Regions from separate parts of the Homo sapiens genome. Here region 2 is linked to region 1. A link means that fine-mapping ties the variant in region 1 to the expression of a gene that starts in the linked region. Tissue or cell type: whole blood. Region 1 holds a variant in brackets; the other region holds the start of a gene. All regions are shown on one strand. Distances are from middle to middle.

Region 1 (5,146 bases):
AGTGAGCCGAAATCGTGCCATTGCACTCCAGCCTGGGCGACAGGGTGAGACTCTGTCTCAAAAAAAAAAAAAAAGAAATTAAAACGTGTTCACTTCTAGTCCATTTATGTACATGTTCCACTTCATTCTGGGCTTGGATTATGTAGGTAATTTAGGTCTCTGGGAAGATCTTTTCTGCTTCGTTTTTTTGCTACTCTTCCTCCTGCCAGTTACTGCATTAAAGATATATAGGATATTACTAATGTTTAAATTTCAGTGTTCTTAGAACAACAATGTTGAGAGGTTTCTGGGTGAAGTTTTTAAAAATATATATATATGTATGTTAAGGCTGGGCATGGTGGCTCACACCTGTAATTCTAGTATTTTGGGAGTGGTAGGATTGCTTGAGGCTAGGAGTTTAAGACCACCCTGGGCAACATATCAAGACCCCCATCTCTAAAAGTAAATAAATAAAAATATGTTAAGCCTTAAACAACTGGAAGTTACACCACACTTATCTAATACAGGTAGTAGGAAATGTGATTTGAGATAGGTTTCATTTCTTTAAGTTATGATTTCTATAAATAGACAACTAAGACGTTTTTAGATAAGGGTTAGTTTATAGCTACCATTTGTTTAATACTTACCAGTGCATAGTGTTAACCTACCTGTTTTCACATTTAATCTTCATAATCTGCTAAGGGGGGTAGCGTCCCCATTTTACAGATAAGGAAAATAAACTTAAGTTAATTTTCCAGGGTCAAACAGAGAGAGCGAAGAGCCTAGAGGTATCTGAGTGCTAGGTTGTGCTGCATTCAATACCCAAAGATAAAATTTTCTGCCTCCGCCTATCCCCCTACCTGTTCCAGAGGCTGTTCAGAAGGAATTCAGATTTCCAAACTCAATTCAGTGTCCATTTGACAAGAAGAAAGAAAAAATGGGGCTGGGTGCAGTGGCTCGCGTCTGTAATCCCAGCACTTTGGGAGGCTGAGGTGGGCAGATCACTGGAGGTCAGGAGTTCGAGACCAGCCTGGGCAATGTGGTGAAATCCCGTCTCTACTCAAAATACAAAACTTAGCCAAGCTTAGTGGCGCTCGCCTGTAGTCTCAGCTACTCAGAAGGCTGAGGCAGGAGAATCACTTGAATCCAGGAGGCAGAGGTTGCAGTGAGCTGAGATTGTTCCACTGCATTTCAGCCTGGGTGACAGAGTGAGACTCGATCTCAAAAAAAAAAAAAAAAAATGGAAATGCTTTTCATACAGTACTCTATGTAAACATCATTTCTTTTTTTCTTTGAGACAGAGTCTTGCTGTGTCGCCCAGGCTGGAGTACAATGGCATCATCTCACCTCACCTCAACCTCCGCCTCCTGGGTTCGAGTGATTCTCCTGCCTCAGTCTCTCGCGTAGCTGAGATTACAGGCGCCCGTCATCACGCCCAGCTAATTTTTGTATTTTTAGTAGAGACGGAGTTTCACAATGTTGATCAGGCTGGTCACAAACTCCTGAACTCAGGTGATCCACCAGTCTCAGCCTCCCAAAGTGCTGGCATTACAGGTGTGAGCCACTGCGCCCAGCCCAAAATATTCCTAGTAAAACAGTATTATTTTGCATTAGGTGTAGATTAGAGTGTACGTTCCCTTAGGGGATTTATCAGAATATTTTGGGAAGGGGCTGTAGTTTGATAAAGCAATTTGTATGTGTAATTTGTCAGGATGTGTAATTTATTTTGGAATATAATAACATGAGAATTTTTTTTTTTTTTTTTTTTTTTTTTTTTTGAGACAGAGTCTCGCTCTGTTGCCCAGGCTGGAGTGCAGTGGCGTGATCTCTGCTCACTGCAAGCTCCGCCTCCTGGGTTCACGCCATTCTCCTGCCTCAGCCTCCCAACTAGGTGGGACCACAGGCGCCCGCCACCACACCTGGCTAATTTTTTGTATTTTTAGTAGAGACGGGGTTTCACCGTGTTAGCCAGGATGGTTTCGATATCCTGACCTGGTGATCTGCCCATCTCGGCCTCCCAAAGTGCTGGGATTACAGGCGTGAGCCACCAAGCCCGGCCCGAGATTTTTTTTTTTTTAATGTGTGAATGAAGTATATAAGTTTATTTAAGAACTTGAATGGTGCCAGGGCTGGTGGCTCACACCTGTAATCCCAGCACTTTGGGAGCCAAGGGAGGAAGGAATGCTTGAGCCCAAAGAATTTGAGGCTGCAGTGAGCTGTGATTGCGCCACTACACTCCAGCCTAGGCAACAACAGAGCGAGAGCCTGTCTCAAAAAAAAGAACTTGAATGGACATTAGTATTGCTCTTAGTTTTTTTTTTTTGTTGCTTTTTTGGTTTTTTTTGTTGTTGTTGTTTATTGTCTTTTTTTTTTTTTTTGAGGCGGAGTCTCGCTCTGTCGCCAGGCTGGAGTGCAGTGGCACAATCTTGGCTCACTGCAACCTCCGCCTCCTGGGTTCAAGCAATTCCCCTGCTTCATCCTCCCGAGTTGCTGGGACTACAGGCACGCGCCACCACACCCAGCTAATTTTTATACTTTTAGTAGAGATGGGGTTTCACCATGTTGGCCAGGATGGCCTTGATCTCTTGACCTCTTGATCCACCCGCCTCAGCCTCCCAAAGTGCTGGGATTACAGGCGTGAGCCACTGCGCCCGGCCTAGTCTTAGTTTTTTAGTTTTTGTTTTTGTTTTTGTTTTTGTTTGTTTGTTTGTTTTTTGAGTTGGAGTCTTGCTCTGTCGCCCAGGCTGGAGTGCAGTGGTGTGATCTCAGCTCACTGCAACCTCCGCCGTCCAGGTTCACGCCATTCTCCTGCCTCAGCCTCCCGAGTAGCTGGGACTACAGCCGCCCGCCACCACACCTGGCTAATTTTTTGTATTTTTAGTAGAGACGGGGTTTCACCGTGTTAGCCAG[G/A]ATGGTCTTGATCTCCTGACCTCGTGATCCGCCTGCCTCGGCCTCCCAAAGTGCTGGGATTACAGGCGTGAGCCACTGCGCCTGGCCTATTCTTAGTTTTTAGAAGTGGGGTGTCGCTGTGTTGCCCAGGCTGGAATGCAATGGCTATCTTATCAGGTTCTGTCATATTGTTAGCACCCTACGACCTTGAACTCCTGGGCTCGGGTAATCTTCCTGCCTCAGCCTCTGAGTAGCTGGCACTACAGGTGTGTGCCCCACTATGCCCACCTGGGACATTTTTACTTAGGAATTAATACTCTGGTTATGTGTAAAAATTCAAACAATATGGAAGTATATAAAGTAGTTTTTACGTCCCATGATAATCACTGTTAATTTAAAATCAGAGGGAACCACTGTTAATAATTTCAAGCGAGTATTATACATTAGGGAGAAAAGTATAAACATGCCTATGTAATACTTTTTGTTCTACTTGATTTTATTTGCTTAATTTAAAATATATCTTTCTGTATCAATGTATACGATGTATTTCATTTGACCTGTTCAATATTTTTGCTGCCACAACATATATAGTCAACTCAAAATTTAATGCATTGAACAAAATATATCAAGTACTATTTGTGTACATTGAAGTTATGGTTCTTTCACATTATAGCTATCCAGTCAGTTCGCTGCTATTCCCATGGGTCACAGGAGACAGATGAGGAGTTTGATGCTCGCTGGGTAACATACTTCAACAAGCCAGATATAGATGCCTGGGAATTGCGTAAAGGTAATTGGAACATAAACATATTTGTCTATTTTGGTGTGTAAATATGAACTGCTTCTGCTCCTTTATTGAGAGCAACTGTTTCGAAAACATGCGTTGTTTAAACTGGTTACTTCATGCAACTTGCAGTTAGGAAAGTTTATGGCTACCTATAAAGCAGGATTTTAAGGCAGGCACTATTGACATTTTGGGCCAGATAATTCTTTGTTGTAGGGGACTGTCCTTTACACTGTAGGGTGTTTAGCATCACCTTTGGCCTCTACCTGCTAGGAGCCAGTATGCACACATTCGTATCATGACAACCAAAAATGTTTCTAGGCATTACCCAGTGTCTCCTGAGGGATGAAGTCACCCTTAATTGAAAACCACTGCTATAGCAATAAGGCTAGATGAGCAAAAGGTAACAGTTTTGTACATTTCAAACAATTTACATAGCACGGGCGCGGTGGCTCACGCCTGTAATCCCAGCACTTTAGGAGGCCAGGGTGGGCGGATCACGAGGTCAGGAGATCAAGACCATTCTGGCTAACATGGTGAAACCCCGTCTCTACTAAAAATACAAAAAAATTAGCCGGACGTGGTGGCGGGCGCCTGTAGTCACAGCTACTCGGGAGGCTGAGGCAGGAGAATGGCGTGAACCCGGGAGGCAGAGCTTGCAGTGAGCCGAGATCGCGCCACTGCACTCCAGCCTGGGCAACAGAGTGAGACTCTGTCTCAGAAAAAAAAAAAAGAATTTACACAAAGCAGTCATTTGGTTCCCTTCCCCTTTGGGTGATGGTTTGGGTTTTTTGTTATTTTTGCATTGTTTTGCCATGAATAAGTATCTAAGTAAGTTAGAACTTGTCTTTCCTAAATTTGCAGATGCACACTTAACATGAAAAAATAGAATTAGGTGTAGGGTAATTTATCTCATACCAAAAATTCAATCTCAATGACTATCGTATTCACTGGTATCCTTTGTTTAAATATTTTAAAGTAATAAAAGCAAGAAACCTAAGTGCTTTAAACTTCTCTGCAGAAATGTAATGATTCCCTTTTGCTACAACCAATAGAATTCTTACTGAACAATCTGGAGTAGAAGTAATAAAAAGAACAATTATGTATTCCCATTAAGAGAATCTTAAATTTTATTATGTGTCATTTTGTGCAGATCTGAAAGTAATCATGCCCAATCATTTTCTGGTTGAATGTTTATGAGTCTGTGTACTAATGTTTCTCTATAATATCTCCTTAATGTCCTCATTTAGGCTTCATTAACTCTACGCATTTCTCTGGCTGTTTTTAGGCTGTTTTCCAGTTGAATCTCTTTTATTTTGGTTTTTTTGTTTGTTTGTTTTGTTTTGTTTGAGATGGAGTTTCTCTCTTATTGCCCAGGCTAGAGTGCAATGGCGCGATCTCAGCTCACTGCAACCTCCACCACCTGGGTTCAAGTGATTCTCCTGCCTCAGCCTCGAGAGTAGCTGGAATTACAGGCATGTGCCACCACGCCCG
Region 2 (5,146 bases), 57 kb after region 1:
CTAAATAAACAAACAAAATAAATGGATGCAGGGAAACAGTAAAATAGTTACTAAATGTGTATGATGCATGTGGGCTGGGCACAGTGGCTCACGCCTGTAATCCCAGCACTTTGGGAGGCCGAGGCGAGCAGATCATTTGAAATCAGGAGTTCAAGACCAGCCTGGCCAAGATGGTGAAACCCAGTCTCTATTAAAATTACAAAAAAAAAAAAAAAAAAATTAACTGGGTGTGGTGGTGAGTGCCTGTAATCCCAGCTACTTGGGAGGCTAAAGCAGCAGAATCTCTTGGACCTGGAAGGCGGAGATTGCACTGAGCTGAGATCATGCCACTGTACTCCACCCTGGGTGACAGAGTGAGACTTTGTCTGGAAAAAAAAAAAACCCCAAACCCACAAAAAATAAATTAATAAATGTGTATCATGTGCTTTATACTATGTTAGTGACAGAAACACAACAGTGAGCAAAACAGACCTCAGCCCTACCCTCATGGAGCTTTCAGTCTAGCGGAGGATACAGGCATAAAGAACCACCTATACTAGTATTAATTACAATCTGCAATGGGTATTGTGAAGGAAAAGTACAGGGCAATAGGAGAGCTTATGTTGGGTATGAGGTGATGATGTAACCAAGAGAGTGAAGGGAAGCTACTCCTGAAGAAAGGCATCTGAACTTGCATTTAAAGGGTAAGGAGAGGTTAACCAGAGGATGATAGTGGGGCATGGGTTAAGTGCATACCAGGTAGAAGGAACACATGTGTAAAGGCCCTGAGACAGGAGGGCACAAGGAAGGTTTGAGCAACTGAAAAGAACTTGCATGGCTGGAACAGTGGGTGGGGGTTGGGGGCTAGAAGGGGTCAGAAGGGGAGAAACGTAGGGGCAGATCCTTTAGGACCTTGAAGACAAACTAAGAATTTGGGCCTTTATGATTTTTTTTTTTTTTTTTTGAGACAGAGTTTCACTCTTTTTGCCCAGGCTGGAGTGCAATGTTGCAATCTTAGCTCACTGCAACCTCCGCCTCCCAGGTTCAAACGATTCTCCTGCCTCAGCCTCCCAAGTAGCTGGGATTACAGGTGTGCACCACCACACCCAGCTAATTTTGTATTTTTAGTAGAGATGAGGTTTCACCATATTGGCCAGGCTGGTCTCGAACTCTTGACCTCAGGTGATCTGCCTGCCTTGGCTTCCCAAAGTGCTGCGACTACAGGCATGAGCCACCTTGCCTGGCCTGATTTTTTTTTTTTTTTTTTTAACTGAGACAGGGTCTCACTCTGTCACTCAGCTGGAGTGTAGTGGTGCAAAGATGGCTCACTGCAGCTTTGACCTCCTGAGCTCAAACAGTCCTCCTGCCTCAGCCTCCCAAGTAGCTGGGAGTACAGGCACAGGCCACCATGCCTAGCTAATTACGTGTGTGTGTGAGATATGTATATGTATATATATATATATATATATATATATATATATTTTTTTTTTTTTTTTTTTTTTTTTGTAGAGCCAGGGTCCTGGTATGTTGCCTAGGCTGGTCTCGAACTCCTGGCTTCAAGTGATCCTCCTACCTCTGCCTCCCAAAGTACTGGGATTACAGGCATAAGCCACGCACCCAGCCCTTTATGGAAATTAATTGAAAAATTTTAACAAAGTTCTGTGATAATTTTGCCCCCTTTAAACATATCTTTGATTACAACATGAAGAACAATAGACCAATTAACAGCACTGTATTAGTTCAGGGTAAAAATGACAGTGGCTGGGATTCGGTGACAGCAGAGATGAATAATACCAGACAGATCCAAATAAATAAGGTGGATTTGGCCAGACAGTGGTTCATGAGTATAATCCTAGCATTTTAGGAAGCCAAGGCGGGAGGATCACTTCAGCCCAGGTGTTTGAGACGAGCCTGGGCAATATAGTGAGATCCCCATCTCTACAAAAAATCCATAAATTAGCTGGGTATGGTGGTGACCAGCTGTAGTCCCAGCTACTCAGGAGGCTGAGGTGGGAGGATTGCTTGAGCCCAGGAGCTCGAGGCTGCAGTGAGCCATGATTGCACCACTGCACTCCAGCCTGGGCGACAGTGAGACCCTGTGGGGGGCGGGGGCGGGGGAAAGCGGAGCTGTGGAGAGTGAAGCAGCCACCTCCCCCATGATTGAGGCTGTGTTGCTGAATTCCGTGAGTCACTTCATAAATGTTTGATGTCCAGGTTCAAGTCCCAACTCAGGTCCCAAAGCTGATGGGCCCAGGAACCCTCGTCCCTAAAACGATGAAACGACATCAGAGGGCGAGCAGCCCTAGAAGAAGCAGGCTCAGCTCGGGTGGAGGACTGCTGGATGGTCCTGGCACTTCTCTTTCCCCGAGCACGTTCTGCAGAAGAAGCGCTTTCCTAGTTCTCCCAAGGCCTCTGGCCTCACCTGTCACCCCTGTCCTTTGCCCAGGGATCAGTTTGGACTTCTTCCCAAACTTGGTCTACAGAGAAGTGAAGGGGCTGTTTCCTGTCCCACTTTTGAGAGTTTGCTTTAGAAACATAAAATTGGAAGGTGTCAGATTGATAGGCAGTTGGGAAGGACTCCGGCCACGCCTCTGGCTCCGTAGACGCTCCGCGCAGCCAAGACCCCTGAATCCCCAGCAGAGCGAAGATGTGGACGGAAGCCGAATGCCCACCCACCGCACTATTGTGGGCTGGGCGGGGGGGGGGGGGGGGGGGGCGGAGCGACCCCGGTGCCGTCATAGGGCCACGCCCTCGGGGGAGGGCATCGCGCCTGCGCCAGAACCGCTGCCTCGCTCCCGGAAGTGGAGGGTCTACACGAAGCGCCGCTGGGTCTGGGTGCCCGGAGGCAGCAGCGTTCGCGGAGTTCGCCCGCTGGCCCCCGATCACCATGTCGGCTTTCGACACCAACCCCTTCGCGGACCCAGTGGATGTAAACCCCTTCCAGGTAGAGCCCCTCTCCCGCCATCCAGCTCTCAGATTTCCCTAGGGCCCACGGCCGCCGCCCGGGCCTCTCGCTAGAGCCGGGAGACGTGGCGTAGGAGGGACGGGTCATCTGCCCAATGGGAGAGCGGGCTTTGAGGTCTGGCCTATCGTAACGCGTGAGGGGCGCGACTAGCAGCAGGTGGAACTGCAGAGGAGGCGGGGCGCTGAAGTGTTGGAGACAGTGGGGTCTTCTAGCACCCGGAGGCTGGGCTGTGCTAGGGAAGGGGACTGGAGCAGGTACGGTCGGACCCTTCCGGAAGTCTCCTAGCGTCAGGGAGAAGCGAAATGTGGCTATCGCATTCCCTCATTCTTGGATAGACACCTGTCTTGAGTCACTTTAGAAGAGGGGGTGACAGCAACATATGAGGAGGTGGTGAAGCCTCTGGTGGAGGGGAAAAATGTGGGAAAAGCCCAGGACACCTGCCACCGCTCCACCACCAGCCAAACTAGTGTATAAAGTACAGGAGAGCCCCTGAGATTTGTCAGGGAAAGAAAGATGGGAGAGGGCGGGAAGGTAGCCCAAGTTGAAAAATGGCCTTGATAAGAATTCCACATTTTGGCCATGGGTCTAGTTTGGAGTGGGTTTTGACCAGATAGGAGAGCCCGGGTTAGGGAGAGAGGAGAGGTGCGGGGGACTGTGAAAAATTCTGGACCCACAGGGAACGTTTGTCTGATGGAACTGTGTGTGGTGGCAACATAGTTGAGATGCACTGACGTGTGAGCTGGCCTGACTTTTTTTTTTTTTTTTGAGACGGAGTCTCGCTTTGTCGCCCAGGCTGGAGTGCATTGGCACGATTTCCGCTCACTGCAACCTCTGCCTCCCGAGTTCAAGCAATTCTCCTGCTTCAGCCTCCTGAGTAGCTGGGACTACAGGCGTATGCCACCACACCCAGCTAATTTTCATACTTTTAGTAGAGACGGGGTTTCACCGTGTTGGCCAGGCTGGTCTCAAACTCCTGACCTCAGGTGATCCATCCGCCTCGGCCTTCCAAAGTGCTGGGATTACAGGTGTGAGCCACCACGCCTGGCCTGACCTTTTGAACAGCAATCAAGGAAGAAACAATCTTCCTGCTTTCTTTCTTTTCCTTTTTTTTTGTTTTGTTTTGTTTTGTTTTTTGAGACAATTCTTGCTCTGTCGCCCAGGCTGGAGTGCAGTAGCGCGATCTCGGCTCACTGCAGCCTCAGCCTCCTGGGTTCAAGTGATTCTCGTGCTTCAGCCTCCCGAGAAACTGGGATTACAGGTGTGCACCACCACACCCGGCTAATTTTTGTATTTTTAGTAGAGACGGGGTTTCACCTTATTGGCCAGACTGGTCTCAAACTCCTGGCCTGAAGTGATCCACCCACCTTAGCCTCCCAAAGTGCTGGGATTACAGGGGTGAGCCACCACACCTGGCCTCTTTTTTTTGAGACAGAGTTTTGCTCTTGTTGCCCAGGCTGGAGTGCAGTGGCGCGATCTCGGCTCACTGCAACCTCAGCCTCCTGGGTTCAAGCAATTCTCCTTCCTCAGCCTCCTGAGTAGCTAGGATTACAGGCATGCACCACCACGACCGGCTAATTTTGTATTTTTAGTAGAGACGGGGTTTCTCCACGTTGGTCAGGCTGGTCTCGAACTCCCGACCTCAGGTGATCCACCTGCCTCGGCCTCCCAAAGTGCTGGGATTACAGGCATGAACCACTGCGCCCAGCCCTCTTTCTTCCTTTTTTAAGGCAGGGTCTCACTCTGTCGCCCAGGCTGTAGCACAGTGGAGGTCATGGCAGCCTTGACCTCCAGGATTCAAATGATTATTTGAATCCCACCTCAGTCTCCTGAGTAGCTGGGACTACAAGAATGTGCCACTGGGCCTGACTCCTTTTAAAAAAAATTTTTGTAGAGAAGGGGTCTCGCTGTGATGCCCAAGCTGGTCTCGAAATCCTGGTCTCAAGCAATCCTCTGGCCCCAGCCTCTCAAAGTGCTATGATTACAGGCATGAGCCACAGGACAGTCTTCCTACTTAAAGCCCACACCTTTCTGCCTTTCAGCTGAGAGCACAGGGATGATCTTTTTCCACCATGAGGGGCTGAACTGTTACCTCCAGAGCTCCTATGCCTCTTGTTTCACGTCTGCTCAAAACCCGTTCTAGGGAAGCTTGTTTGTGCTGACTGGTGAATTATGAGCCCTGATATTCTGCTCTGTCAGGATGTC

What was found. PIP is the estimated chance that this variant, and not a neighbour inherited with it, causes the effect.
Region 2: it holds the start of SCAMP2, and the variant in region 1 is fine-mapped to the expression of SCAMP2 in whole blood (INTERVAL, PIP above 0.99). The same link has a PIP of 0.9 or more in sun-exposed skin and unexposed skin.

What each region holds. Positions count from the first base shown.
Region 1 is chr15:74,927,628-74,932,773 of GRCh38, reverse strand. It overlaps COX5A (cytochrome c oxidase subunit 5A), which reads left to right. Exons shown (of 5, transcript NM_004255.4): 2 at 3,542-3,658. Among named protein-coding and RNA genes, the nearest start is that of COX5A, 7.9 kb to the left of the region's middle. The variant G/A (reference allele first, on the strand shown) is at 2,890.
Region 2 is chr15:74,870,976-74,876,121 of GRCh38, reverse strand. It overlaps SCAMP2 (secretory carrier membrane protein 2), which reads left to right and starts at 2,757. Exons shown (of 9, transcript NM_005697.5): 1 at 2,757-2,923. The coding sequence starts at 2,867. RefSeq lists an enhancer at 4,574-5,146.